Linked DNA regions of Homo sapiens: all the other regions are reported to be linked to region 4. Evidence: microRNA targets listed by miRTarBase, many of them from high-throughput screens and not tested one by one. Region 4 holds a microRNA gene; each other region holds the end of a gene's coding sequence.

What was found. Region 4 holds the annotated microRNA hsa-miR-122-5p (UGGAGUGUGACAAUGGUGUUUG, at 2,016-2,037, opposite strand). A microRNA usually pairs through its seed, bases 2 to 8, with sites in the 3' UTR of a target mRNA and lowers its output. Matches are read on the target gene's strand: a 7mer-m8 pairs with bases 2 to 8, a 7mer-A1 pairs with bases 2 to 7 and ends in A, and an 8mer does both.
Region 1: miRTarBase lists FOXJ3 as a target of hsa-miR-122-5p. Seed matches in the 3' UTR shown: 8mer at 1,164-1,171.
Region 2: miRTarBase lists MASTL as a target of hsa-miR-122-5p. Seed matches in the 3' UTR shown: 7mer-A1 at 3,766-3,772.
Region 3: miRTarBase lists FUT8 as a target of hsa-miR-122-5p. Seed matches in the 3' UTR shown: 7mer-A1 at 1,173-1,179.
Region 5: miRTarBase lists TMEM74 as a target of hsa-miR-122-5p. The part of its 3' UTR that is shown has no 7-base or 8-base seed match.
Region 6: miRTarBase lists RBL1 as a target of hsa-miR-122-5p. Seed matches in the 3' UTR shown: 7mer-A1 at 4,089-4,095 and 8mer at 2,302-2,309.

Annotation. Positions count from the first base shown.
Region 1 is chr1:42,175,202-42,180,277 of GRCh38, reverse strand. FOXJ3 (forkhead box J3) reads left to right here. Exons shown (of 13, transcript NM_014947.5): 13 at 453-3,730. The coding sequence ends at 568. Among named protein-coding and RNA genes, the nearest start is that of GUCA2A, 13 kb to the right of the region's middle.
Region 2 is chr10:27,185,960-27,191,035 of GRCh38, reverse strand. MASTL (microtubule associated serine/threonine kinase like) reads right to left here. Exons shown (of 12, transcript NM_001172303.3): 12 at 3,083-4,657. The coding sequence ends at 4,500. It also overlaps a transcript of ACBD5 not described here. Among named protein-coding and RNA genes, the nearest start is that of MASTL, 33 kb to the right of the region's middle.
Region 3 is chr14:65,741,698-65,746,773 of GRCh38, forward strand. It overlaps FUT8 (fucosyltransferase 8), which reads left to right. Exons shown (of 11, transcript NM_001371533.1): 11 at 396-2,424. The coding sequence ends at 713. Among named protein-coding and RNA genes, the nearest start is that of MIR625, 270 kb to the left of the region's middle. RefSeq lists an enhancer at 3,607-4,568.
Region 4 is chr18:58,448,049-58,453,124 of GRCh38, reverse strand. MIR122 (microRNA 122) reads right to left here and starts at 2,051; the gene lies at 1,967-2,051. It overlaps MIR122HG (MIR122 host gene), which reads right to left. Exons shown (of 3, transcript NR_170245.1): 2 at 3,585-3,816; 3 at 1,844-2,306. It overlaps MIR3591 (microRNA 3591), which reads left to right and starts at 1,973; the gene lies at 1,973-2,045.
Region 5 is chr8:108,779,929-108,785,004 of GRCh38, forward strand. It overlaps TMEM74 (transmembrane protein 74), which reads right to left. Exons shown (of 2, transcript NM_153015.3): 2 at 1-5,076. The coding sequence ends at 4,253. Among named protein-coding and RNA genes, the nearest start is that of TMEM74, 5.1 kb to the right of the region's middle.
Region 6 is chr20:36,994,187-36,999,254 of GRCh38, forward strand. RBL1 (RB transcriptional corepressor like 1) reads right to left here. Exons shown (of 22, transcript NM_002895.5): 22 at 2,163-4,743. The coding sequence ends at 4,573. Among named protein-coding and RNA genes, the nearest start is that of SAMHD1, 45 kb to the left of the region's middle.

The DNA.
Region 1 (5,076 bases), not on the chromosome of region 4:
CAGAAATTAGCTTGCTGGGGAAAATTCAGTATGACGTCATTGGTGCACTGCCATCATTATCCTGTTTACCATTCTCATGGGAGCCAATTCATGTTACTGAAACAACGTATTGGAGCAAAACAGACTGTAAGAGCAGTGGCTACATTGGCACTTTTCTCGTGTCTTCCTTACTGCAGCCTGGTATAATGGAAGGAGTGTGGATCAAGTGAACTGACCTCAGATCCTATCTTTGTCCCCTACTGGTTGTGTGACTTTGGGTAATTTACTCATCCTCTTAAACCGTATCCCCTTACCTATAAAATAAGGATCATAAGAGCCACTTTTTGAAGGCTTATGGTTGAATTAGTGAGATAATGTGTGCCTGGCATATAGGAAGTACACAGTAGGGGTTAGTTTATTTCTTACTTTCTTCTCTACCCAAGTCGCTGCTATTATTGCCTCTTTCCTTCCAGGCCATCACAGAGCCATGAACCAGCAGCACATGATGCCTTCCCAAGCCTTCCAGATGCGGCGTTCCCTGCCTCCAGATGACATCCAGGATGACTTTGATTGGGATTCAATTGTGTAGGGCTTGTTTCTGCAAGACACCAGACCCTAACGTTACCTTTCTGTGCAGTGAAGGGAAAGGTTTAAGAGAATCCAGTTGAGAAAACAAACTTGCTAATCACTTTACCAATGTTATCAAAATTACTTTTGAAGACAATCAGAAGGATTTTAGCTGGATAACTTACTGCTTTTATCTGACCCAAGCAAGTACTACATGTTTGTCTCCCTGCCAGCTGCCCTATGTAGCTCCTAACTGTTGTGTGATTTGGACGGCTTTTTGCATATTTGTGTCAGTTTGATGTTAACCACAAGTGCCAGACTGATTTTTCAGACGGAGCCTATTTTGCTGCAAGCAGTTTATATAAAGATACATATGTGTAAATATATGTACAAAAATTACTGAAAGGCTTCAGTTTTTTCTAATTGGATTATTATGTCTTGAAAGTTATTGTCAGTTTTTATTCCTTGTTAGGCTATTTTCTGCAGGATGCTTTTAACTGATGTAGGAAACTGAAAGGAAATAGATTTTTTCCAAAACCCAGTTCCCCTTATTTAATCTTTTTTAGAAATGTGGGTAATGAATTCTATCTAATAAGTCAAGGAAACCAGAATTTGACACACTCCAACAATCCGAAGGGGCATGTTGCTCCTGAGCAGCATGAAGAACTGACCAAATTGGTTTTGATGCTTGGGGGATCATAGAGTATTTATGTCTGCTTTTCTAAATCTGCATTATAATAGCTCTAAAATTTGTTGATTGGTAAGAAATTGGGCATTGCTTGGCTCTTTAAACACATCAGTGCTTCCACATTCACCTATGTATTTATTATTCAAAAGTGTCATTTTAATATTTATTGCTACCTTCTGTGAATGCTTAGCTCCTGTCGGGTTCATTAAGGAGAAATGTGTCTGAAAGCACAGAACTATTATTATTTTTTTCTTTTTTTGAGATGGAGTCTTGCCCTGTTGCCCAGGCTGGAGTGCAGTGGCACGATCTCGGCTCACTGCAACCTCCGCCTCCCGGGTTCAAGCAATTCTCCTGCCTCAGCCTCCCGAGTAGCTGGGAGTGCAGGTGCACACCGCCATGCCTGGCTGATTTTTTGTATTTTAGTAGAGATGGGGTTTCACCATGTTGCCTGGGCTGGTTGCAAACTCTTGAGCTCAGGCAGTCTGCCTGCCTCAGCCTCCTAGAGTGCTGGGATTACAGACATGAGCCACTGCGCCTGGCCCAGCGTTACTTTTCTTGATAAGAATTTACAGATAAGACACTCAGAGAGACATTGTGTCATTCTCTATCATCACTCCTTTTACCATGTGAATAGATTTCTCTGTCTTGGCATTCTTGCTGATTCAGACTTATTAGTTAAATCGGATTTTTCTGGAATTTGAATCAGATTTCATTTGGGCAACAACAGCAGGGCAGGGTTTCTAAAGCAGGTTTCCCCACTCATCTAGGTTGTCTTGAAAGGAGGATAGAGCCACTTACAGTTTTATTTGCTTCAGTGTTTAATGTAGATATTATGTGGCCTGCTGTTTCTGTTGTCTTGTATGTCTGTGTATGCATGACATTTGGTCCCTTTCTTTGAAATGCAGCCCCTCTTACGGGTTTTTTAGTGGTGGTGGTTTGTTTTGTTTCATATCATATCACAGTTTGCATGGACTGATTATCTTAGTTTTATGATAAAACTAGAAGAAATGAGGGTTTTTTTTTAATGAATAGATTTTGAATTGATTCTTTAGACCCCCCAAAAAGTGTCAGTTCTAATGGGGAAATATATTCCATCAAGTCAAAGAGTAATAACTGCTCACTAGTTGCTTTTTAGCATCTCTGGTCTTATCAGCCATGCTAAATCACTTTAATTAGCCTTAGTGATTCTATGGTTGAGTAATCTCTACTTGAACTAAACAAACATCTTTTGTTTCTGTGTGTGTGTGCTGTGTGTGAGAGTGTGCGCGCGCGTGTGTGTGTGTGTGTTTTAATGGAGTGTTGCCTTGAATGAATCACTGGGAAGCCAGCCATGGTAAGGGCTGGTGAGGTTGGGGAGAAAGGAAGAGCTTTATGTTTCTCTGTTGTTTGGACCCTACTTGGCATGAAAAAGGAAGCTCAGTTCCAGCCCCTTGGATCAACGAAAATCAGAGGATTCTGGAAAGGCAGCCAACTTGCGCCTCTTAGAAGGATCAGAGGCAAGATGAGATGGCAGCCTGCAGAGTAAATGCTTGAAAAAAGAGGGGTGATTTTCAATGGTTTGCTTAAGTCACTGTTTTCTAGACACCAAAATAGCTGTTTTGAAACTGTTTTAATTGCTTGGGTAGCAATGTGCACTTTAAACAATTTGGATATTGGAATGCAGTCTCATACTGAGTGATTTGAGTAGAACCACTGATGATGATTTTATAAATTGTGTGAAGCGAATTTCCCATTTGGCAATCATTTACTGATTTGCAGTGATGAATATTTTTATGAGAATTTAAACTTAGCAAGAATGGCCATGGAGGCAAAGCCTTCACCCAGACCCATCCCACTCTCCTGTGATCCAGGTGGTCCAGGAGCCCAGGACAGGCCTTTTCTGTGGGCCCTGGCCAGACAGGGTTACCTGGTGAGGTGCAGAGAGTCCCTCTAGTGGCCATTTTGTATGGTAGTTGCTAATGCAGAACAAGTTCTGTCTTGGGCTTAAATTGACTGAAGACTTTAGGGGGAAAGAATAGTAAATGCATGTAAACAAATGGGGACACTCTGTTCAGGAGAATAATCCGACTGGCATTTGTGGCAGTTTTTGAAATGTAAATGTATTCATGTGTGTTCTTGTAAATACGTGTCGCTCAGATGTCCTTTGAAGTGGGAGGGAATCAATCCGGGGATAATTTCAAATGGAATAGAGTATTTTGATATTGTTCATTCAGAGGGTGATGTGTACATATCTATATTGTATATATGTGATGAAAATGCATTGGCTTTTTGTGCAGATACAACCTGCTCTCTGTACTGCTGTTGGACAGTCAGTGTTTTAATGTTTCTACAGTTTTGCTATTGCACGATTTCATATTTTGCCTCTATGATGAACGGCAACCATTATTTGTAACTGTTTAGTGCTGTAAAGAAATATTCCAAGTGTCATTAGGATTGTTGCTGCCAGAACTGATATGCATGAATGGCACTTAAAATAAATATATTATGTTAACTCTATTTACAACACTGATTGGTCTCCGTTGTTTGCTGTAATTGAAGAAGTGAGAATGGAGCTAGTCCAGGTGCAGAAACCCCACAGCCAGGACCCCAGAGTCCTTGGGGTCACTGAGATTGTGTCCTTTGCATTACTACCTGAGGACAGTAATTGCTGCCATTTAGTGAGCATCTTATTAGCTCCATGAACTTGGGGAAGTCACTGGATTTCCCTGGGCCTCATTTTCCTTATTTGCAGCGCCAGTACAATGAGGATAGTATCTGCCTCCTAGAGTTGTAGTGGGATTTACATAAATCAGTACATTTAAACATTTAGGACAGCACATGGGACATAAAGCATACTGGTACTCAGTATGTGCCAGGTGCTGTGCTAAGTAGATATTGTGGTCCTCCTTTTACCGACATGGGAACAGCTCAGATAGAGGTATAGAAACTTGTCTAGATTCTTCAGTTGGCAGGTGATAGAGCAGAGGTTTGAATCCAGGTCATTTGATTCCAGGCATCATGTTTTTTGCACAATCCTCTCATACTTACTGAGGGAATTCCCCTCTCCCTACCCCCTGCCCTTGCCCCATCTTGTCCCCAGCACTGCCTTCCCAGAGCTATTTCCAAAAGGTGAAAGTGGGGCTTTACATTTGCTGAGCACATATTCTGTGTTAAGCCCTCTCATGAGAAATCCAGAGATGAGGAAGCCGCAGTTCCTGCCTTTAGAGGGTGCAGACTTGCCCAGGACAGGTAGCAAATGCCAGCCCAGGGAGGCTATTCTGAAGGTATGCTCTGGTAAGGCAAGATTCTGGTGATGCGGAGTTAGGTCATACTGAGGATTGGGGCCGTGGTTTAGGAGAGGCTCCAGGTATGGGCTACCAAGTTGAGTCTTCAAAGGGTCCCAGACAGATGGGAGGAGGTATTGCCATTTATACCATTACCTTGGGCAAGGCATGGGAGCTACCTTAGCATGGGGGTTGTGGGTTGAGGCAAGAGAAGTGCAGGGCTGCTGGTCAAGAGCTGAGCGTAGCAATTCTGTGAGAAATGCTGTCCCCACTTCACTGATGTGGAAACAGGCCCGGAGAGGCTAAGCAACGGGCAGACCAGCCATGTGGCTGGAAGTGAGATTAACCTGGAGTCCCTCCCACTCTAGAAGGGGGACCTTTTCATCAATCCCATGATCTACCCAAAGCCTCAGGCTGCTGCTAACGTAACCCACACAATGCCACCAGAAACATCTTTGGCAGTTTTACAGATAGGGAAACAAGGCCCAGAAAAGTTAACCTGCCCAAATTCTCACAGCTAATAGAGGAGCTGGAATAATTCAGTCCAGACCTAACTCCAGAGTTCATTTCCTTTTACCT
Region 2 (5,076 bases), not on the chromosome of region 4:
TTTATTTGGAGGTGTCCAACTGATTTCTTGAATTCTTTATTTGGGTGTCTCACAGACATCTCAAACTTAGTATGTCTACCCATCCTGTCCCTCATTCCAGTTCAGGGTGCAGCACCACAATCCACCCAACTGCTCAAGCCAGAAGTTAGGTGTCAAATGTGGCTCTTCCATTCTCTCACCTGTCTCATCCCATATATCAGTAAAGTCCTGTTGCTCCTACCTCTAAAATATGTCTTGAATCCAGGTGGGCTGGTGCAGAAGCCTTTTATTCAGTCTCCTTCCTTCAAATGTTGTCCCGTACAATACACTTTCCACACAGTTAAAAGAATGACTCATCCATGGTTGGCTTGGTATTAATTGAAAGACCTGGTGTAAACAGTAAATATATTTGTACTATATTCTGGACTCTCAGCATTTTTATAAATGGCTAAAAATAAGACAGTTCTTTGTAGCAAATAGAGGAATTAGACCCGAATGTCCTTCAAGATGTTTTGGAGCATAATAGTAAGGCTTTATATAGTTACCACTTCCCGAACCCAAAATTAAAGTACATATTCCAGGAGGCAGTAGGGTACTTAGGGTTCAAATAATTATCATTTTATTAAACACCTTTTATGTTTGCTATGTACTTCATCTTACTTAATTCTAACATAGGTGGGCCAAGATAAACAGGACATTCTTCAAACATAATTTCTGGATTTGTTTAACATTTAATGGGGGTGGGACAAAACATTTTTAAATAATTTTTTTTGAGGCAGAGTCTCATTCTGTCACCCAGGCTGGAGTGCAATGGCGCCATTTTGGCTCACTGTAACCTCCACCTCCCAGGTTCAAGCAATTCTCCAGCTTCAGCCTCCCGAGCAGCTGGGATTACTGGCGCGCACCATCATGCCTGGCTAATTTTTATATTTTTAGTAGAGACGGGGTTTTACCATGTTGGCCAGGTTGGTCTCGAACTCCTGACCTCCTGTGATCCACTCGTCTCAGCCTCCCAAAGTGCTGAGATTACAGGCGTAAGCCACCATGCCCAGCCTAAAAAACAATTATTATTTTATTTTTTTAGATAAGTGTTTACTGATATTTTTATTTTGGAGCTCCAAAGGAAAACAAGTCACATCTATTATTTTGCATTTTTCATGTAAGAATAAAACATTTTCCTTTAACAGATACCAACTTATTTTTTCTTTTTACTCTTTTTCTAAATTCATCCAATAAACATTATGCCGTTGTGAAAACAAAAGTTTATTTATATATATATATATATATTTTTATTATACTTTAAGTTCTAGGGTACATGTGCACAACGTGCAGGTTTGTTACATATGTATACATGTGCCATGTTGGTGTGCTGCACCCATTAACTCGTCATTTACATTAGGTATATCTCCTAATGCTATCCCTCCCCCCCACCCCACAACAGGCCCCAGTGTGTGATGTTCCCCTTCCTATGTCCATGTGTTCTCATTGTTCAATTCCCACCTATGAGTGAGAACATGCGGTGTTTGGTTTTTTATCCTTGCGATAGTTTGCTGAGAATGACGGTTTTTAAAAAATTTAGATAGAGACAGGGTCTTGCTATGTTGGCCAGGGTAGTCTCTAACTCCTGGCCTCAAGCAATCATCCCACCTTGGCTGTCCAAAGTGCTGGAAATAAAGGCGTGAGCCACTATGCCCAGCCACAAATTATTTTTTATTAATACAAACTGTATATAGCTGGCCGGGTGGCTCACGCCTGTAATCCCAGCATTTTGGGAGGCTGAGGCGGGTGGATCACGAAGTCCGGAGTTTGAGACCAGCCTGGCCAACAAAGAACAATACATTTGTAGAGAAATGACAGGACAAAGGAAAGTGGTTTTAGGCTTCCAAGGACTGGAACCTTTGGGAAGGCAAACACTGTATGTGGGAGGAAACTAATTGAATAAGGTTTCTTTGCCAATTCCTCTGGTGCTGTCCCTGGTAGATAAGACTCTAGAATTGTCTCCAGCAAAGGAGAAGTTATATCCTGCCTTTGGGCAGAAAGGCAGGGGGATGGCGAGAGCTTTCCTCAGTTTGCTGCTTCTTAACTGCCTTTAGCTCAAAAATATTTTTATGTCAAAGAGGCATTTTAGGATGATATGTTCTGATTTCCTTCATAGCAAAAGATGAGTGGATTTCTATTGGTGGCCGTTGGTGTTTTTTAAAGACGTGCATGCACACATATACATCAGCTGTCAAAACCATCCCCTTTTTCCCATTGTTCTTTCCTCTTAGGTTTTTCCCTAGCAAGTGTCTGAATCTACATCTTGACAGGTATAAATTTAGATAATAAGTCACCTGTTCCCAATAAATACCATTACAGCATGCCTTACCTGTGGCTGAATTTCAAGTGACTATAGCTTCACATGCTAGGTCTGTTAGTAAACAGTGTAACTTTCCACTCAAGGCCATTGTCTTGTGCATTGGGAATATGCTCAGAGAACATTTCCCCGATTATTCAGTAATGTTTCAAGTCCCTGTTAAGGTTAATATCCTGGGTAGCAACTAAATTGGCTTGTTCCTCAATCTACTCTGTTCATTCCAACTCTCCAAATTAATCACTATTAATCCCCACTATACAGTGAGTCATCAATAGCTCAGTTTAACCTGCCAGAGGCCTTTTATTGTGGCAGAGCAGTGATTTCAACAATTTGTGTTTGATTCCCAAACTTTTTTTCTTTCTACTACTGGCAAATACCATAAAAGGATAATAGATAATTCTATGCTTTTGCCTAATTTAAGGGAAAGATGTAATTCAAAGTTTTGAACAACTGTATTTTGAACATTTTACTAGAAGTGACCATTAAATCTAAGTAGTTATTACTAAAACAAGCTCAGTAAAACCATTAACCCATGGATTCAGTTATATAGCACTAATTATAATGGTGTATCTTTCACTGTAACCATTTTAAATTTGTACATTTTGTCAACTACATTGCAACAGGGCTGTTGATTGGGATGGTAATGGAAAGTAAAAACACTAAACCCGATGTGCAAAAGGAACAAGTTTTTTTTCCCCCGGAAATGGGGTCTCGCTTTGTTGAAAAGAATGATGTTGACAGATAATGTACTTGTGATAGTTATATTTATTAAGCAAAAGAAAATTATGTTTTGTTTTTTAAGGACCAATCTGTTTCTGATAATGTTGCATGTTTTAAATAAATGACAATAAGATGTAAAGCATCACATTTTCTATTAAAATTGAACAAGCTATTCAAATTGCTACATTATATCACACCTAATTGTTCCAGTAGTATTTTTTTTTTTTTTGAGACTGAGTCTCATTCTGTTGCCCAGGCTGAAATGCAGTGATGTGATCTCAGCTCACTGCAATCTCCACCTCCTGGGTTCAAGCGATTCTCATGCCTCAGCCTCCCAAGTAGCTGGGACTACAGGTGTGCGTCACCATACCTGGCTAATTTTTCTATTTTTAGTAGAGACCAGGTTTTGCCATGTTGGCCAGGCTGGTCTCAAACTCCAGGCCTCAAGCGACTTGCCTGCCTCAGCCTCCCAAAGTGCCGGGATTACAGGCATGAGCCATCGCACCCGTCCTCCAGTACCATTTTAAACAAATACATATTGTGGACTACGCACCAATAGAAATTAAGGTGGCAAAACCGTATCATTAGTAAAGTAAGTGAAAGCCTTAGTCTTTTTGTTTATTCCTTATTCCCCAAAGGAGTTACTAAGTGAAGGAATTTTCCAGCTGCCTTTATTTTTTTGAGACGGAGTCTTGTTCTGTTGCCCAGGCTGGAGTGCAGTGGCACGATCTTGGCTCACCACAACCTCCTCCTCCTGGGTTCCAGCGATTCTCCTGCCTCAGCCTCCAGAGTAGCTGGGACTACAGGCGCCCACCAACATGCCCGGCTAATTTGTGTATTTACAGTAGAGATGGGGTTTCATTATGTTGGCCAGGATGGTCTTGAACTCCTGACCTCAAGATCAGCCTGCCTCGGCCTCCCACAGTGCTGGGATTACATGCGTGAGCCACTGCGCCCGGCCTTCCAGCTGCATTTCTGAGGTCACAAGTATGGCCTTAAATGATTGCCCTCAAGAACACAGCTTTTGAAGGTAATCATATGCAAGTAAATTACAATCAAATGGAACTGTATGATTATTTTATTATTTTAATGCTAAACTGAACAGTGAACTGAAATCAGAGGAGAAAGAAAATCAAGCTAGTGGCTCACTCTCAATAGTGTCCTCTAATTTTATTGATGCTTCAGTTTTCATAAAGTGCAATAAACAAAATAAATAAATGAAAAAAGCTTTGAAGATTTATATACAGTTTTGAGGTTAAGATAAATTACTGACTATATTCCTTTCAGCCTTTTAACTCTGTGAAAGCTGTAACGTACATTAAAAGCACATTGAACTAGGTTAAATAATGATCTTTCCCCCTTAGATCAATCTAGTATTAAGGAGTATATAATTATGCAAGTTCATTCTATAACACAAGGCTAGACTAAAAGGAAAATTTTTGTGCTACAGACTAAATCCAGATACAGTCAGGTGCTGAGCAGTATTCCTGGCTTCAAAATAGGAGGTATCTGTTTCATCATCTGGCTGGGGGATGAAAGGCATAGTCTGATGCTGCAGATTTTCCCAGTCCACATCACTGAAGAGAGGATGACGTTTTAGCTCTTAGGAAAAATATAAAACAAAACAGTATGATATCATTACCTAAGTAAGTACTGCTTTACAGGAATTATTATAAAAAGAGAATGTCTCACATATAACTTACCTTACTTTATTATGTCAGTTTCACAGACATTTGTTTAATGTCTGTTAGGCCACATACTTCACAAAGGTCTACATGGGCCATTTTGAATATCACTTGGCATATGACAGGTGCCTGGTTTGTATTTGTTTAATGACAGAATGAATGATTTGCCTTAACTTAGAAGCCTATCTTTCTCACAGCTTTTTTTTTGAGACGAGGTCTCGCTCCGTTGCCCAGGCTGAAGTGCAGTGGCGCGATCTCTGCTCACTGCAACCGCCGCCTCCCGGGTTCAAGCGATTCTCCTACCTCAGCCTCCCGAGTAGCTGGGATTACAGGTGT
Region 3 (5,076 bases), not on the chromosome of region 4:
AACTTCAAATTCTTTAAGGGCACAAACTATGTCTTACTCATTTTGGTATCATGAGTGCCTAGCTTGGACCACTGTGTATGTAGCTCTTAATAAATGTTTGTTAAAATTAACTAATTCATATTCTTAAATTCTTTTGTACTATATAGAGATAGAGAGATTTTAATTGTAATAATCTTTCGTGAGTTTTTCTTCTTTATTTGAAAAAGGATCCAGACACAGAGATGAAGAATGACTTGTACCATCTTCTGAGAACAAATGGACTGAAAGCTTGTGACTAGAATCCACTACTTTTCAACCTCTTACTCCTAGAGCCCATCCTTTTGGCCAAGGGCTTTTAGATTGCTGTGAAGGAGAGTGTTTATATACTAACAATTTCTTTTAAATTCTTTCCCAAGGTCTGTCGAGTTGCTTATGAAATTATGCAAACACTACATCCTGATGCCTCTGCAAACTTCCATTCTTTAGATGACATCTACTATTTTGGGGGCCAGAATGCCCACAATCAAATTGCCATTTATGCTCACCAACCCCGAACTGCAGATGAAATTCCCATGGAACCTGGAGATATCATTGGTGTGGCTGGAAATCATTGGGATGGCTATTCTAAAGGTGTCAACAGGAAATTGGGAAGGACGGGCCTATATCCCTCCTACAAAGTTCGAGAGAAGATAGAAACGGTCAAGTACCCCACATATCCTGAGGCTGAGAAATAAAGCTCAGATGGAAGAGATAAACGACCAAACTCAGTTCGACCAAACTCAGTTCAAACCATTTCAGCCAAACTGTAGATGAAGAGGGCTCTGATCTAACAAAATAAGGTTATATGAGTAGATACTCTCAGCACCAAGAGCAGCTGGGAACTGACATAGGCTTCAATTGGTGGAATTCCTCTTTAACAAGGGCTGCAATGCCCTCATACCCATGCACAGTACAATAATGTACTCACATATAACATGCAAACAGGTTGTTTTCTACTTTGCCCCTTTCAGTATGTCCCCATAAGACAAACACTGCCATATTGTGTAATTTAAGTGACACAGACATTTTGTGTGAGACTTAAAACATGGTGCCTATATCTGAGAGACCTGTGTGAACTATTGAGAAGATCGGAACAGCTCCTTACTCTGAGGAAGTTGATTCTTATTTGATGGTGGTATTGTGACCACTGAATTCACTCCAGTCAACAGATTCAGAATGAGAATGGACGTTTGGTTTTTTTTTGTTTTTGTTTTTGTTTTTTCCTTTATAAGGTTGTCTGTTTTTTTTTTTTTAAATAATTGCATCAGTTCATTGACCTCATCATTAATAAGTGAAGAATACATCAGAAAATAAAATATTCACTCTCCATTAGAAAATTTTGTAAAACAATGCCATGAACAAATTCTTTAGTACTCAATGTTTCTGGACATTCTCTTTGATAACAAAAAATAAATTTTAAAAAGGAATTTTGTAAAGTTTCTAGAATTTTATATCATTGGATGATATGTTGATCAGCCTTATGTGGAAGAACTGTGATAAAAAGAGGAGCTTTTTAGTTTTTCAGCTTATTTACTTTGTTTTTTTTCCTGTTTCTGATATAGTAACTAATTCTTAACTCAGAGACATTGGTCCATTTTAATACTGAAAACCAATTTTCATTGGTACACATTACAAAATTGCTAAGAACACTGTTTGGGAGCTTTCATTCTCATATTTTGGACATTGTTTTAATTGAGTGAAATAATCATAACTCCTTGCTCCCAGAGAAGCTATCACCTCCATTTCTAAAACCATTTCAGGTTTGTTTGGTAGTCTTTCTTAATGTATTTATTATCGCTTTTTGTGAGTAGGGTCCTGTTTTATCCAGGAACCAATTTCTGCCCTAGCCTATCATGCCCTGCTTTTGAGAGTACCAGGTATCTTTGGGATTGGGAAGCTGGCTGTTTCAGAAGTATATGTCTCATAGTGTGCAGAACTTGGTGACCAAGTGAGAAGCGGGACCAATGGGAGACTCACAATGGACTGAGTCTTGGGATTATCTTTTCCAAATTCTTCCATGTTAGAATCACTTCAGAAAATAAGACTTTGATGCTTTGTCTCTGAGCATCATTTTTCTCCTCATAAAAACACTTCCTTATTGTATGTAGCCTGCCTCCTACAGAGGCCTGGTAGGTGTTACTGCATTCTAAAAGAAAAATGTCATCTCTGTAGGAGCGACTATCAGGCCTAGTGTGAAATATTAGGGATCCTAGGCAGAAGAGCTATTAGTCCTGGCCTTCATATCTTCACCAAATGAAAATACTGTATATAAAATTTCACCACCAAACTTAACTAAATTCTTTTTCTCAAGTCAAGCCTCCCAAAGAAAAAAGAAATTAACTTCCTACAGTGTCAGCAAGCAATTTTCCATTTAGTTTTGGTACAAATAAAAGTCATTTGAAACAATCTCCAACTGAGCGGAGGTAATTTTGATTATGAGTTATTTTGCAACTCGCATCTCACATGTCATTGGAACATCAGTAACTGTGGATCTGATTTGTGCCCTTATAGAAGATCCAAAGGTAAATTAAGTTAGTCTCTTTTCCTTCTAAATTGACCGAGTTCCAGGGGTGAAAGGACCAAAGAACAGAGATACGAAGGAAATAAATTAAGGAGTATTTCCCAAAGGGAGTCTTCAACTGAAGAGTTAATTTTTGACATTTTATCATTTGGTTCTAGAATTTCTCCCTAATTCTTTATATTTCTCTACTGAGATTTTTTTATTCACTACATGCATGTTTTCATTGAACATAACTATGTAGTGAATAAAACTATGAACCTTGAACATAACAGATGAACATAACTATGAACATAACCGAACAAAACATTGAACATAACTATATAGTGAATAAAAAAATTATTTGTTCTCAGTAGAGAACACATAAATAAAAAAATTATGTGTTCTCAGTAGAGAACACATAACTATGTTCAATGAGTTTAAATTATGCTTTAAAATTCTTTTCTGGTAAATTTGACATCTGGATAATCTTAGAATTGGTCTCCATTGTTCCTCTTTACAGAATGGTCAGATTTTGGGGGGAGGTCCCTCATATATTGAGTGATTTAGATTGTGTCCTGAACATTGTAATGTTTATGTTGTAGATTCTGTTATATTGCTCTGAAAAGTGCTGTGATATATACATATACACACATAAATATACATATACACAAAAATATATATATACAACATTTGTGTATTACATTTGTGTGTATATATAGACACACAAATATATATATACAAATATATACACACACAAATATATATATATTGTGTATGTGTGTGTGTATATATATATATTGCTTGTGTTAGCAGGCATTTAACTTTATTGGACTCAAACTGTAAACTCTCTTGGGCAGCAGCTGAAAATCTCAATTCAGTTAGCTGGAGTCTATGCTGCACATAGTTCAGGGCTTAGCCAGAGAGATGGATAGAATTTATGCACAGAATTTGTGGTGCTTTTTCTTTGGCTCTCTTTCTTCTGAGATTTCCCCCCTCATTTTCCAGCAGCTGTGGTTGCTCTGATTCTTAGACCAGAAAAACTGCAGTTTTCTTTCAGCCCAAAAGCTGTACAATGGGAAACTCACCTTGTGCCATTCCCTTCTTTAAAATTTCAATCTCTTTTCAGAACTTGCCTGTTTTTATTGTCTCCTACCCTCATGTATTTTTTGTATTTTTTTGAGAGTTTATGGTTGTTATTCGTTGGAATATTGGTTCAGTGGGTGCTTACTCCACCATTAACTTAAAATGAAAAAACAGCAGGGGAGAGGACAGGTTTAGTCTTGTGAAACCCCTGTTGAGACTTTGGCCTCAATAGCCAAGTAGCCAGTAGCCTTACGTAAGAAGATGAAGAAGTAACCAAACTGTTAAACCTGCTCTTGTGAAGGGCTAATGAATACTGTTGACCACATCTTTCTAAATCGCCTTTGTAATCATCACATACATGATGGTGATTCATTCAATACATGTTGCCGTGTTGAGAAGGCTGACATTTTTCTTACCACTATTGTAATTTCTCCATAAAGCCCTGGTACTTAAAAAATCCTGCATGATTTTGAATTGAGTGGCCAGTGCTAGGTTAGGATTTGGGTCTTTTCCTTGTTGAAAGACCTATTTCTGAGAGACTTGCCTGGAATTAAATTATTATCGTGGGCTCATTGAATGTGGGTAACAAAATCCTGCTTATTAATGACAAAGCAATTACGAAAGATCTCACCAAGGCTTTCCTAGTTCTTCCACTCAAGTCTGATTTAGTGCTCAGCTGGGCGCTTAACGAATTCATGCCTGTTGTGAAAGCCCTAATCCAGGATTTCATTGTACCTAAATGAGTAAGAGACTAGTTCCTTTTCTGTTCAAGCTTTAGGTTTTTGTTGTTGTTGTTATATAGAGGCAATCCTGTTTACTGGGTTCCCTCTTTGTAAAGTTGAGAAGATGAACAGCCCCAGCTTCTAAGGGAGTTGAGAGTTAAAAGAGAAAAAAAAGCACATTTTAAAAGCTACCTCATACAATGATTATTGTCATTATTATTTGGTTCTGAGAGGATACAGTCACTGTGTATTCGGTGAGCAGGAAAAGTGTTGGGGTCTAAACGGTGCATCTAGAAGAGTCTCTTCTGCCTCAGTGAGAGCAAATCTCTCAGGGGAAAAAGACAAGTCTCCTTTGGCCATAGCCAATTGCCCGATACTTCATTTATGCTCTCAGGAGACTGTGCATTAGGTTCCATAGACCTGCACAGAATAGACATGTGGCTTGAGGATTGGTGAAATTGACAACTTGGCTACAATACCCTAATTTATGTCAGATACAGACTGTATGGAATTTTTAAAGTGTGCTGCTCAGAAAGGAGCACAAAAAATTTGCCTCTATACTTACTGGTTCCTAGCACCAGTCTCTCTCATGGACACATGGAAGAGCTGTTCCAGGATCACAGGCCTTGGAAAGTTTGGGCTTTGAGTTCCTGGCTAGTCTTACCTCCCTATTAATTTGCATAAGAATTTCTGGCCCAGTAAGGAGATAGAACATAGTGAGTGCAGGGACAGAAGACCTAGTTTTCAGTTTTG
Region 4 (5,076 bases):
GTCCCCATCCAGATCTCGGCTTCAATTGTATCGCACAGAATTCCCACGTGCTGTGGGAGGGACCCAGGGAAAGGTAATTGAATCATGGGGGTCAGTCTTTCCCCTGCTATTCTCATGATAGTGAATAAGTCTCACGAGATCTGATGGGTTTATCAGGGGTTTCCACTTTGGCTTTTTCCTCATTTTCTATTGCTGATGCCACGTAAGAAGTGCCTTTCATCTCCCGCCATGATTCTGAGGTCTCCCTAGCCATGTGGAACTGTAAGTCCAATTAAACCTCTTTTTCTTCCCAGTCTCGGGTATGTCTTTGTCAGCAGCATGAAAACACAGACTAATACAGTGTGCATGAGCGTGATCTGTATAACAGTAGAGCCCTCTATTAATGCCTGTTCAATTAGAGCCTTTGCCAAAAAAATACACACAAAAAGGAATGTCAGTGTCTCAATTATTTCAGGGAGTCTGATTCTCTTCTTGACAGTAGATGGTGCCAGGAGGGAAGAAATGAGAGGTGGTAAGAGATGCAGGGCAGGCAGGGGTGCTCTTCTTCTTCTTTGGACAGAGGCATCTCATGACCTTGAAGCCTTTGTAGTGTATCATAAATGTGTGGGCTGCATTCAGGTGAGGCTTTCCAGCAAGGGACTCAGAATTATTTCGCAAAGTTTTGCTCATTTGGCTCCCGTTTGGAACAATTACAATGGTCCCAAAATATAATGCGAGCCAGTGAATGCCCATCTCTGGAAATAACATCAGACACATTTAATTTAAAAGTGTCTTCAATGCCTAGGACAGTGTCAGGCACACGGTAGTCTCTACACATATTTATTTCATAAGTGAATGGTTGAATGGTTGAATTTGTTTCTGATGGTTGATCTAACCCTGTCTATTTGATTAAACATGTCCTACTTCATTTAACCAAGCCTGGGGAGGGAAGCTTTAGTCTGGCACAAACGAAACCTACTCCTGACTTTAGACACCTCTCAGAGACAGAATGGGTTCCAAACCAGAGCACCTGGCTGGGCCAACTGTCCTAGAAACTGCATGGGTCCCAGATTTGCTATGGCAGCTCACACATGCTTCATAAACAATTTTCTGATGGTAATTCACTGATGCAAGAGGAAGAAAGGCCTAGTGTACGAATTCAGTAATCAGCCTAGTAATTGATTGAAATCAGTAGAAATCAAACATATTCTAGAATTTCTGAAACGTCAGTGAAACCATGTGTAAGTTTATTAGAAAGTTGGATTTTTTAACGACGAAAAGAGAAGGACCCACACACCTTAATTTTGTACCTATAAGCTTGCGGTCTGTCTGCATAACATAGATTTAGCCCAGTCTTAGCCTTCTGCGTCTAACACTTTCCTAACTATTCATTTTAAGTCTATAAGCATGGGTTAAATGATTACCTCGTGCCTGGCCTTGTGTTGGGGGCTCTGAGGAACTCTGCAATCTTTTTATTTTCATTTTTTGAGACAGGATCTTGCTCTGTCACACAGGCTGGAGTGCAGTGGTACCATCACAGCTCACTACAGCCTCAACCTCGTGGGCTCAATTGATCCTCCCACCTCAGCCTCTCAAGTAGCTGAGATTACAGGCACATGCCACCATGCCTGGCTAATTTTTGTAGTTTTTGTAGAGACACGGTTTCACCATGCTGCCCAGGCTGGACTTGAACTCCTGAGCTCAAGTGATCCGCCTGCCTTGGCCTCCCAAAGTGCTGGGATTTCAGGCGTGAGCCACCGTGCCTGGTCTGCAATCTTTTTATTGACTTGGGAAAACAAGAAAATTAATCACCAGCTAAGGTATGTAACAACAGCATGTGAGAGGCAGGGTTCAGCTAACCATATTGGTTATGAGTGCAAAAGAGCCAGACTTTATTCAGTAAGTACACAAGATTGAGAAGACTGATATCAGATGAACCTTCTTGCTCAAAGCAAACGATGCCAAGACATTTATCGAGGGAAGGATTGCCTAGCAGTAGCTATTTAGTGTGATAATGGCGTTTGATAGTTTAGACACAAACACCATTGTCACACTCCACAGCTCTGCTAAGGAAACTCTGTAGCCACGAAGGTGTTAACTTCACCTCCACATTCCACCATTGTCACTGATAATAGGGGAACCTTGTCAGCTCCACATATTGTGACCTAAGCAGAGAAAAGAAGCATCACGGGTACAAGCATCTTGAGCAATGGGAAGAGCTGAACACTCTCAATGAAAGGCTTCTGTGTTCTGGAACAGTAGAGTAGTAGAGGGGTCCACTGCCTGTGTTCCACTGCCACCCAGCAAACCCCTTCTGCAAAAACTTCCTGTGAAAATGGACAGGAACTCTGTTTGCAACAATTTTCTAAAATGGCTGAGAGAGAAAGAATCTCTAGAGGGAATAGATTTCTGGAAATAAATACTTATTGGAAGACTACATTATAAATGAGAATAATCTGGCCGAATGAATGGATACTCTCCAACTCTCACCTCTTCACCTACTTCCCAATCCATCATCAGTAAATGTGATCAATTCTGCAGTCTAGGAAAATTAAAATTATTTTATATGGGGATACAGCAGTTAGATGTGTTGTGATCTACTCTCCGTGGCATCTATTGGATATAAAGGCATCTGGTCTTGCTCAAATGTTCAATCTTCTTGACCACAGTCATTTTCCACCATGGCGGTGGGTGGGAGATGAGGGGAGAGAAGAAAGAGAGGAAGATGGAGAGAGAGGAAACGAGTCCATTTTTAGTTCATGATACTCATTTTCTAGCAAAAAGGGAGCTCCAAATAAATCCCTACAGGATTTACTTGGCTTTCCTGTTAAAGATGGTTTATAATTGTTATGTGAACTCCTGCCCACCATGGAGAATGAGAGGAAATAAAGCATTTTACCTACTCCTTCTTTTCCTGCAAATGCTGAAAAGGGAAAGGGTTGGGAGCCAGTTATTTTTTCCCCAGGATAACTGAGTTGTTAACATCTGACCAGAGTCTTGCTTTAGCCCTAAAACCGGCCCATCTTTAACAGCTGTAAATGAACCCTTCCGTATTTTTCAGAAAAAAAAAAAAAAAATTGCGCCTTATTCTCATGTAGATCCTGAAATCACCCTCTTCAAGCTGGACTTGCAGTGATTATCCCCCTGCGAAAGCTGAAAGTCGTTCTGCTCCCATGGGTTGGAGTGTTGAAGTTGCCTCTTTTTTTCTTTCCCTTTTTCACTTTGTGGATTCGTTATCTTCCCCTAAGTGACTGATTTCCTTTGGTTCCTGTCTGTGGCCCTGGCTTTCTTTCATGAAATGTGGTCATTTGCAAGGCAGCAGGCCGTGCCAGTGCTACACATACTCTCTTAGGTGGGACTCGCCTCCTGGGCAGTTTTCCATGACTCAGAGAGAATGACTACGAACCCTAGAACTGCTCTAGGTGGCCCCAGTCACTGCCACAAACCCCTAGCACTCTGGGTGTGGCCAGCAGTGGACACAGGCATGTGGTGGCCCATCTTGTCCTTCCCTTTCCCTACAGCTCCTCCTAACACAGTAGCCAGGCTTGTCCTGCTTAGTCTTTGCTGAGGGACCTAGAACAGAAATCGCCACCTCCTGGTCATACCAGGGCTATCGCTGACCATCCACAAGAGGCTCTAGAAGTCTCTTAGCTCTGCTGGGAAGAAACAGTGAGAGGTGAACAATTCACTGATTAAAAGGGTCCCCGGAGGATGCGCTTGGAGCGCTCTATCCTGGGCAAGGGCTTGGACCCATTTCACTTCTCAGGGCTCCATAGCAGTATCTGAGCATCCTCCACTTCTCCATGGGGGCTCTGTTGGCTTTTGGCTTTGAATAATCTGCAAAATACAGAAAAGGGAAGGAACAGATGGAAGATGAAAAGAGATGAGGAAGTTAATGCATTACAGGTAAATCTTACCAACTCCCCACCCCCCAAATCAACCTTTACAGGTAAATCTTACCAACTCCCCCCACCCCAAATCAACCTCAATTTCTATGGCCCAGAAATCTATCTCCAGGAAAATGTCAAAAATTTGTAGAAAGATTTACCTATAAGGTTGCTCATAGTGGCATTGTTTATAAGGGTAAACATTGGAAACAACCTAAATGTCCAGCTATAGGAGAAGAGTAATATATTTATGATAGACCATAATTATTTAAATTGATTCTGTAGAAAAGTCTGGTAGACTTGGAAATTCAAGATATGTTATTGAATTAAAAAACAGTTTATAAAACAATATACACAGTATGAGTCCCTTTCTGTGAAAAAATGCATACATGCCTGAGGCCAAAACATCAAATGTTAACCATGGTTATCTTTCAGTAGAGAAATTATGGTTTGTTTTCATTTTCTCCTTTTGTGTGCATTTGTTAATTTATGATTCATATGGCACTTTTTTATTGAGAAAAATGAGGATTTAAAAACTTTTAGGCAATTTTCTTTCTGGACTCTCAATACAAATTCCTTCTTGCAAAATACTCTTCTGAAATTGGGAAGGTTGGAACCCATCCTGCTCATATACAACTTGTCACAAGCATGAAAAGTTAGTGCTGTGCTGAGTGGCAGGCCTCAGGCTAATTTTTTAGCAAATTATTAGTGAAATACTTTATTATGCAGTACAATAATTTTATGGTATTATTGCATCAATCACTAAACACATATTGAGTGCCAATCATTTTCTGTCTTGTGAGCAATTTTTAAACATTGCTAAAATGGCCAACATCTTTTATTACTACTTTGTTTCTGCAGAGGTGGTTAAACTGTCAATTTACAAAGCAGTTTAAACAAACAAGCAGAAGGTTTTCTTTTTTTAAAAAAAAAAAGTCATCCAATAATATATCGCTAGTAAAATAAATTAAAAGTGGTTAGTGTCAGGATCCACTTTTGAATATTTTAAACATTCACAAAATAATTTCTCATTCTGCAGATTTTTAATGTTCTAGTATTTTCAAACTTAACAACTGAACTTAAATAGTACGAGCTAATAACAAATAGAAACATTATACACTGGTTGGGAAGTATTAACACGTTATTTCCTTTGAAAAAATAATGCTTAAGGCAAAGATGTTTGATATTAAGCAGGGTGACTTGTCCAAAT
Region 5 (5,076 bases), not on the chromosome of region 4:
GAGATGATAATATAGAATATTATGAACCAAAAACAGATATAGCTAAAAATCAGCCAAAAGGAAATGATATGTTAATTCTCTTTCTTAAGTACTCTTTTTAGACTAGGAAAAGCCAGTAAGACTTCATTATAATCTTCTCATCGTAGTCATTCTTTATGTCCAATTCTGGGAAAGGTTAAACCCATTACAGAGAACAGTAAGTATTGATAGTATTACATCTTGCTGTAATAGGTGAACCACTGGCAAAGGTTGTGAATCTTTTTTGTCAGACCACGTTTTTTTGATGGCATTAATTGCTGCAATGAAATCTGACCTTCAGGTTGAAAAACCTTCTCCTAAGAGATATACATATAGAACACTTTTTTAACTTGACAATTAATCCAAGTAAAATTTTGCATACACCTATCATTGCACACGTGAAAGATGAAGACCAAAATGTTCACATGCTCCTGCCTAGAATTTTTGCTTGTCAGAAGGTGGTAAAAAAAAATAGAGCCATTGGGTTCAGGCTTTTAATTCTCAATATTTAACTAGCATGGTGCTCAGTCACTCATTTATCAAGATTAAGTCACCCCTTATACTGGGGGGACTGAGGTAAAGGCACACATAAGTTTGGCAGCGCAGTCTCTTTTCAGAAATTGTACCTTGAAGGGCATGTGCCAGCACTGGTCCAATTGGGTCCCTAAAACAAATAAGTATGAGGGGGATGAACTCATATTTTAAGCAGACAGCAAAGCATGTGATGATATCAAGGCAAGTAACTTGATAGAACAGAATCAAGGGTTATAGCAGTCATGTGGGTAAAAGCAACCATGGCCTCCAAGAACTTCATGGTTCCAAGCAGTCTTGTCTTCCTGTAAACTATAAATCACCTACACAGTGGGGAGCATGACGAAAAGCTGTTCTTTATATGAGGGGCCAGTACATCTTATTATGTGATCTGCTTTAAGAGCTCCCAATGGGTGGGAAGGACACACAGCGCTGCAAAGAAAACTCTTTGCAAACTCTACCACTAACAGTTTAAGGTGCCCTAAAAAGAACTGGCTTATAAAGATATTAGGAGCCTTAAATCATCCACCAGCAGCGTGTAGATCCCAGTAATAAAGGAGAAAGACAGCTTTCTTTCTGTAACTCACCCCATTGGGCCACACTGCTGAAAGACGAGCTGTCTTCTCATTGAGACTAGGAAGATGACTCTTGAGTTTAGATTTCTAAAACCATGTAAATAAGCTAAAGACCTAGAACCACTGAAATATGTTTTTCTTCTCTAGGACTAGCAATAAAAACTTTCACAGGTAACAACCAGCACCATATTGAAGAGACAGACGGAAGGTCACAAATCTCCATGAAGGATGCAAGACCAAAACTATAGGTATTGTATGCCCAATGTCTATAGAATGCATCACCTGGTCTTGCCAAAGTACCTCTAGAGCCAAAAACACTCTTTGTCAGATTGGGAAAAACAGGAAATAAAGCACATGGCTTTTCTTTGCCTGTGTTACCATCATTTTAAATTCAAGTAATCTTCATATTGAATTCAGGCAGGATGGATAAGGGCTACATAAACCAAATACCCAGGGAAAAGTCGATTAAGGCAAGTATCTGAATAATGTCACCACAGCCCAAAAGAAGTCATTCAGATGATTTTCAAAATCATGTAATGTGTAATGGTTTGCCCTCAGATAAGTAGAACCTTAAAAGAGAGGTGCTCTATATGTTAGCAGATTTAAATAATGTTGAAGTGTGCATTTACTTACCACATTTCGATTTTAAATTTTAAAGGAAATTATAGCATTCTAGGGAAAAGAAAGGAAATGTATTTTGATGTGTTAGGTCTTTTTCTCCCCCGTTGAATATTTTTTTTCCAAAATGGCATTTTTCAAAATGTTACCTCTAGATCAAATCTATATTATTTGGTAGCCCTGCAAGATTCATTAAATGCTTCCACATGAAAAGCTTTATTATCAAGTGAAAAGACCTCCTAACACTTGATTCCCAAACTCCTCTTCCTTCATAAACTGAAAATTGATTCCACATTAATTCAGTTTAGTCTGCCATTTGGCTAATTAATCCTGTTTCACCAATAAATAAAAACTCAGTTGATCTCATTTAGCTTCTATGAATAAACATTAGTTTTTTCTTTAATGCCTTCTTTTTTTTAATGCCTTCTTTTTTTAACACACAGCTCAGACCTACTCACTCAGCAGATCGTTTCCTTCTTGTTTCAACATCATCCAAAGTGGATCCTTAAGCAGGCTAGAGCTGGACTTAGAAACCTTCAGAATATAAAACTTATACCACTGGTAAGGCAGCCTCAACAAAAATCATGAAATGAGAGTCACAGTAAAACAAAGTTTGTTCAAAAAGCACAAAAATACAGCAACAGAAAGCAAAAATCATGTTTATGTCATCTCAATTCTTTCTTTTCAGTAATCAGTATTGCTCTATAACATAAGGCAATTAACTACATCTAGCTTCCTCTGATGGCCATATAATTTCTCATTTTTACTTAATAATTCTTTCATATGCCCATCCTCTCTTTTTACTATCTTCTGAGCCTCCCTTTTTGTATTTCAGTTCAACCCTTAAGTCATATGCAGCATACCTCACTCATCAAATCAATCTGACACCCATGAGAGCTCATCCACATAAATATCCTGATTCACACATTTTGCCAAAGTCACCCATGTATTCCACAGTTGTCCACAACACCACAAACTTCAGACATTTGAAATAGCCTTTAAAAATCTGCAAAGAAATCACTTTCTTACTTCCTCATTCCTGCTGTCTCATACCAATTCCCAGCTCCTGTCCTCTTTTTAAGAATGACCCCCTGATCCTGGTAACACAATCATGGAAGTTACAACAACTCTTAGAGCACAGGTTGGAAAAACCTCCAGGCAGAGTTGCAAAATGTAAGGTATTTCTGAGGCTGCATTTCCCATCCCTTTTCTGAACCGTCACCATAATGAGGCGGTCTGTCACTGTGAACACCCAGTGTGTGTCTTGCAAAGTGAGCACCTTGCTCATCATGCTGCTCTTAGAGAAGAGTTTGTGCTGCATGAGGCAAGAGTTCACAGTTGCTGAATGACATCTAGACCACTGTGAGTGGGAGGTGAGTTCTGACGATGACTACAGTCCCCATTAAATCAGTGTATTGAATCTCTCTTTCCATTTTATTTTTTTTTGGCTTTGGGCTTAAGGACTGTTGCTACCATGAGGGAAGTGCTCGTTGCTTGGCCTACAGCAAGTGATACAGCCTGCGAGGCACAGTCCCCAAAAGTCTAGCTGCAATTCTATTGGTGGTTTTCCCCAAACAGCAATAACAAGATGTTACCTGGAAGCACACCAGAGCCAATCATGACTCAGGCCTGTCTAGATGTTTAGATGTCTGGAAATATATTTAAAATGTCTCATGCCTTGCCTCTTGCTGCTGGTGTGAGAACCAGCAGACTTCAAGAGCACAGATAACCAGTATGATGGCAAAATCACAAAATATAAAACTTATATCAGTAACTAATTTGACTTCATTTTAAAAAAGAGCCTGTGACCCTGGCTAATATCTGGCACCAACACTGTGGTTTAAATTCACATTGGTCTTACAATGATTTACATAATTTTTTTTTATTAGAAAGTTTATCCTAATGACTTAATTACCATTTTTGAAAACAGGAATAATTTCAAACATAACATTTTTTACAATAAGGAAAGCCCAACATCCTCAAACTTCAAAATATTCAAACTAAAAATTCCATGTTTTAGTGTTTAGCCAAATTACAAGAAGGATAATTTAGCAAGAAAATGGATAAGCACCTTTGAGAATTAGATGTAAGCCTTATTATTGATTAGTGCTTAGTTCTTTTTCACAAAGTAGATTAGCAATTGATCCTACTGTGTGTAGGACCACCTAGTGTCCAAAGAATAACATCATATATTTGTGTAAAAGAAATAATTTGTAGACTGGGTCATTAGAAATATTTTTCTATCGAAGTAGAAGTTCTTGGCCATTACAGATTAATTAGCCTTCAGCTCTTCAGAAGGATAGGTGTGGCTGGTTGTGGTTTCTTATACATCTTACATGGCTTTTCTTCTAAATAGAAGACACATAGAGAACAAAAACACTTACTGGCTGTTGGTTTGTGAAATAAACTTTTCTTGCCAGGCAAATAAATTGCACTGTGAATTTTTATAAATTAACTTTTTTCATATTATAAAATGCCAAGGCAGACTCTCAAGATATTCACAACCAGAATTAACTCTGTACAGCAAGCGCATCTTCCTCTACCAAGGACAGTTCCAGAGTGTTTTCATTCGTGCTGGTTTTCATCCTGAAGTTGAAAGAACCATAGAGTTTTGCAGACTCTTTGGAAGAGGCAAATCTGTTTCGACGATAGAGCTCCCCCTTCCACATGGACATCATTAACAAGCAGGACAGGATGACGCCCCCCAGCGTGAGGAGGCAGAGCCCCGCAATCACACAGCGGTCCAGGTGAGCCCCCAGCCTCGCACTCTCCTTCTCCAGGCGCTCCATCTCCCGGGCTGCCACAGTGTTGGGGTCCACAGTCACTTCCCGTGGGACGATGTAAGAGATGATCACGAGCAGGATCCCAGTGACCAAGAACAAGATGGCGCTGATGAAACCATAGTCTATAGACTTCCCTGAAGACGTGGCTTCTGAACTTGTATCATCCTCCTCTTCAGATATCAAAGATATGGCAGCCTCTTGGGACCACTCATTTGGATTTTCCCAGCCAAGCTCCCCAGGGTGATTATGCCCTTTTGCTGATGGCGAGCTCCGGTTCCGCTGCTCCAAGTTGATGTTTTTGTCCACATAGGTAAAAGAAGTTTCTAATTCCTGGCTGCAGCAGTTACAGACTTTCCGTTCCGCTGTTATTTGGTTGTTCCCTGAGTGGAGAAGTCCTGGTGGAAAGGCATCTGGCTGAAGAGTACTGTTTTGCAGAGAGGAGGAGGGGGATGCTGGAGAAGAACTAAGTTTAGACCCTTCCATCTCGGTTGCTCTTGGGGTGGATGCACACTGTTTCTGACAGCAGAGAGCAGCTCTTGTGGCTGCTGTAT
Region 6 (5,068 bases), not on the chromosome of region 4:
TGGGCAACAAGAGCAAAACTCCATCTCAAAACAAAAAACAAACAAACAAAGAAAATCCCATTTTCTGAGGAGAAATTCAAGCTGGCTGCAGAAATTTGCATAAGCAATGAGGAGCTGAATGTTAATCACCAAGACAATGGGGAAAATGTCTTCAGGGCATGTCAGAGGTCTTCATCACATCCCCCCGACATTCACAGGCCTGGAGGTTTAAGAGGAAAAAGTGGTTTTGTGGGCTGGGCCCAGAATCCCCTTGCTGGTTGCAGCCTGGGAACTTGGTGCCCTACGTCCTAGCTGCTCCAGCCGTGACTGAAGGGGTCAATGTAGAGCTTGGGCCATGGCTTCAGAGCATGTACGCCTCAAGCCTTGGCAGCTTTCACATGGTGTGCACAGAAGTCAAAATTGAGGTTTGGGAACCTCTGCCTAGATTTCAGAGGATGCATGAAAATGCCTGGATATCCAGGCAGAAGTTTGTTGCAGGGACAGGGCTCTCATGGAGAACCTCTGCTAGGGCAGTGTGGAAAAGAGATGTGGGGTTGGAGTCCCCACAAAGAGTCGCTACTGGGGCACTGCCTAGTGGAGCTGAGAGAAGAGGGCCACTGTCCTCCAGACCCCAGAATGATAGATCCACTGATAGCTTGCACTGTGTGCCTGGAAAAATCGCAGACACTCAACACCATCCTGTGAAAGCAGCCGGGAGGGAAGCTGGGAGGTAAAGCCACAGGGGTGGAGCTGCCCAAGACCATGGGAACCCACCTCTTGCATTAGCATGACCTGGATGTAAAACATGGAGTCAAAAGAGGTCATTTTGGAGCTTTTAAGATTTGACTGCCCCACTCAATTTCAGACTTGCATGGGGCATGTAGCCCCTTTGTTTTGGCCAATTTTTCTCATTTGAAATGGCTGTATTTACCCAGTGCCCATGCCCCTGTTGTAGCTAGGAAGTAACTTACTTGCTTTTGATTTTACAGGCTCATAGATGGAAGTGACTTGCCTTATCTCAGATGAGATGTTGAACTGTGGAGGTTTGAGTTAATGCTGAAATAAGACTTTAGGGGACTGTTAGGAAGGCATGATTGGTTTTGAAATCTGAGGATGTGAGATTTGGGAGGGGCCAGGGGCAGAATGATATGGTTTGGCTGTGTCCCCACCCAAATCTCATTGTGAATTGTAACTCCCACAATTCCCATATGTTGTGGGAGAAACCCAGTGGGAGGTGATTGAATTATCGGGTCAGGTCTTTCCTGGGCTCTTCTCCTGATAGTGAATGTGTCTCATGAGATCTGATTCTTTTAAAAACGGGAGTTTCCGCTGGGCATGGTGGCTCATGCCTGTAATCCCAGCACTTTAGGAAGCTGAGGCAGGTGGATCATGAGGTCAAGAGATCGAGACCATCCTGGCCAACATGGTGAAACTCCATCTCTACAAAAATACAAAAATTAGCTGGGCGTGGTGGCACACGCCTGTAGTCCCAGCTACCTGGGAGGCTGAGGCAGGAGAATCACTTGAACCCGGGAGGCAGAGGTTGCAGTGAGCCAAGATCCCACCACTGCACTCCAGCCTGGTGACAGTGCAAGACTCTGTCTCAAAAACAAACAAATAAACAAACAAACAAACAAAAAACAGGAGTTTCCCTGCACAAGCTCTCTTTGCCTGCCACCATCCATGTAAGATATGACTTGCTCCTCCTTGCCTTTTGCCATGGTTGTGAGGCCTCCCAGCCACGTGGAACTGTAAGTCCATTAAACCTCTTTTTCTTCCCAGTCTCGGTTGGATATTTCTTTATCAGCAGTATGAAAATGGACTAATATAGTATCTAAGACTTAAAAAAAAATTTAAGGTGAAATCAAGACTTAAAAAAAAATTTAAGGTGAAATCTACATAACACAAAATTAACCATTTTTAAATGTCCAATACAGTGGCATTTAGTAAATTCACAATGTTATGCAACTACACCACCTCTATCAAGTTCCAAAATAGTTTCATCACTCCCCCCCCAAAAAACTCTGTATCCATTAAGCAGTTATTTTTCATTTTCCCCCTAGACCCTGGAAACCACAGGAACATTAACTTTTAAGTTATTCTAAGGAATTTTAGAGACATAGATATTAAAACAGACAGATTTCAGATGGCTGTGCAACTGCTTCCAGTCATACAGAAAAGAGTTTTTTTTCAATAATCTCAATTCCAATTTTTATTAGCCATTCTATGTACATTGATACCAAGTCCTGAAAACTGATAAAAACATGTCCAGAATTTCTTTTTTTCCTTTTCTGAGAAAGGGTCTTGCCCTCTCACCTAGGATGGAGTGTAGTGGTGCAATCACAGCTCACTGCAGCCTCAGAATCTCCCAGTCTCAAGTGATCCTCTCATGTCAGTCTCCTGAGTAGCTGGGACTACAGGCACATGCCATCACACCCAACTAATTTTTTTATTTTTTGTAGAGATGAGGGCTATGTTGCCCAGGTTAGTCTTGAACTCCTGGACTGAAGCAATCCTCCTGCCTCAGCCTCCCAAAGTGTTGGGATTATAGGCATGAGCCACAGGACCTGGCCCATGGTTTCTTATACAGTCAATGTACAAATGCTCATTTATATTTTGCACAATAATGAAGATAAAAATAACAATTATAGCAACATACAAATATGTACAAAGATTCCAGACAGACTTTGTTTTTTGGCTTATAACAATGTGTAGATACTACACAAAGAATGAGGATGTAATTTTCATTTACAAGCAAAATGTGACCAAAATCCCTTTTCTTCTTAAAATTGAAAAATGAAATTCTTGAGAATACTAATTAGTGACGGCCAAATCTTAGACTATTTTAAATTAGCCATGGTTAAACATAGGTGAGTTAAACATTGTGCCTTTCCAAAATTAAGGTTTGCAGTTAGAAACATAAACATTTGATAAAACTTCTCAAAATTAATTATGAGTGGCTTATTCATGTCCTTTGGATTCCAGACACACACTAGAAAAAGTAAACGTTAAAGAGGTGATATTTTGGAAAGCATCCCTAGTACTGAAAAGCATCCCTAGCACTGAAAAAAGCATCCCTAGTACTGAAAAGCATCCCTAACACTGAAAAAAGCATCCCTAGTACTGAAAAACATCTTCAGGAGTACTCAGTACTCCCTAGTACATCCCTAGTACTGAAAAAAGCATCCCTAATACTGAAAAGCATCCCTAGTACTAAAAAACATCTTCAGGAGTACCCAGTGGTCAAACACTAGCAGGAAACTCATGATGCACTAACAATACTGAGAACAAAGTGTGGGAAGTAATAAGCAGCTATTTTACTGATGTATTAAATATATTAGAATTATGAGGCATGAGATGATATTTATGTGATTTTTAAAAGGTTTAAAATATTCTTAGGGACTCAATTAGATATTGAGAATGACTGATAACTATGATCTCAAAAACAGTATATCACACATAATCATGGTGTTACCTTACTAATAGGAATTTAGTTTTTAATAACTAACTGAATTTTATTTTACTGGCTTCAGAAGCAGCTGCCTATTTTGAGAACTACATGAGTTAATACGATCATATATAATTAAGTTAATGTCACAGAAACCAAAATGATAATAGTTTACAAAAGAAGAAAGTGCCCCATTTATTGGGTTGTGACATCAGGCTGAGATGGCTTAGGGCTGGAAAGCAAGGATGAGTGTAGCACTGGGGCTCAGGTACAAATCTGTTTATAAAGCTCAAGGAGAGAAAAGGCACGAGAAGGGGTGAGACAACTCTGAATGGCGGTGGTACCTGGATGTGGAATTACCACAGTGGGCCAGAGACAGGATGGTATATAACCCTCTGGCCAGGTACTATGGGAACCAACCCCTTCCTTCAATATTAAATTAAGAATACAAATATCTCAAAGCATGCTATCAAAAGTAGATTATTTATCCTCATATTACAGAACACAGAAGGAGACATTTATTTTTAAAAGAGAGCTAAAAAGTTATGGGGTTTCTCCTTATTTCATCTTGAAAACTCAAGGAGCAAACATTAAAAAAAATTCCCTATTTATATATATATATATATTTTTTGAGATGGAGTTTTACTCTTGTTGCCCAGGCTGGAGTGCAGTGGCGCAACCTTGGCTCACCACAACCTCCGCTTCCTGGGTTCAAGCAATTCTGCCTCAGCCTCCCAAGTAGCTGGGATTACAGGCATGCGCCACCACACCCGGCTAATTTTGTATTTTTAGTAGAGATGGGGTTTCTCCATGTTGGTCAGGCTGGTCTCGAACTCCTGACCTCCGGTGATCTGCCCGCCTTGGCCTCCCAAAGTCCTGGGATTACAGGCGTGAGCCACAGCGCCTGGCCGGACTATTAGTATTTTTAAAAGGCACTTAAAATATTCCTTTCCAATCCAACTCAAAATACATCTCTGTCAACTACATTTTGGATAAATATTTTAAAAAGCACATAATTTTTGTGCAATTTTTTCTTATAACCCAGTGATATTTATCATCTATAGGGCTAAAAGGTTTGAAGGACAGAGCTCCAACTTTCTGCAGAACAATCTGAAAGTGCTTTTATCATAGAAACAAGAACAACATTAATGATTTGCTCTTTCACTGACAACATCCTGTAGTCGTTTCAGTAAAACGTCATCATTTTCTTGACAGACGCGTTTGGCAGGGGATTCTGCATCACTATCGATGGCTATTACTCGCTTCTTGGTTCTCTGCTCACCTTGCCTTATCATGTTGTTGATATCTTTCAAACTCTGTGCAGAAATAGAGAACGTGTGTGAGTAAAAGAGGGAGAGGGGAAATGGCAGCAAACAACCAAGCTAATTGTTTTTTCCTGTGCTCTATCCTCTATCCAAATCTTAACACTGGGATAAGGACTCTTTTTAAAACTTAGAACAACCTAATAAGGGATGGCTTGAACTAATCTTTTCAGGTGGTTTAAAAATTAGATTTAAGGCCAGGTGTGGTGGCCTGTAATACCAGCACTTTGGGAGGCCAAGATGGTTCAATCACTTGAGCCCAGGAGTTTCAGACCAGCCTGGGCAACATGGCAAACCTGGTCTCTACAAAAAATACAAA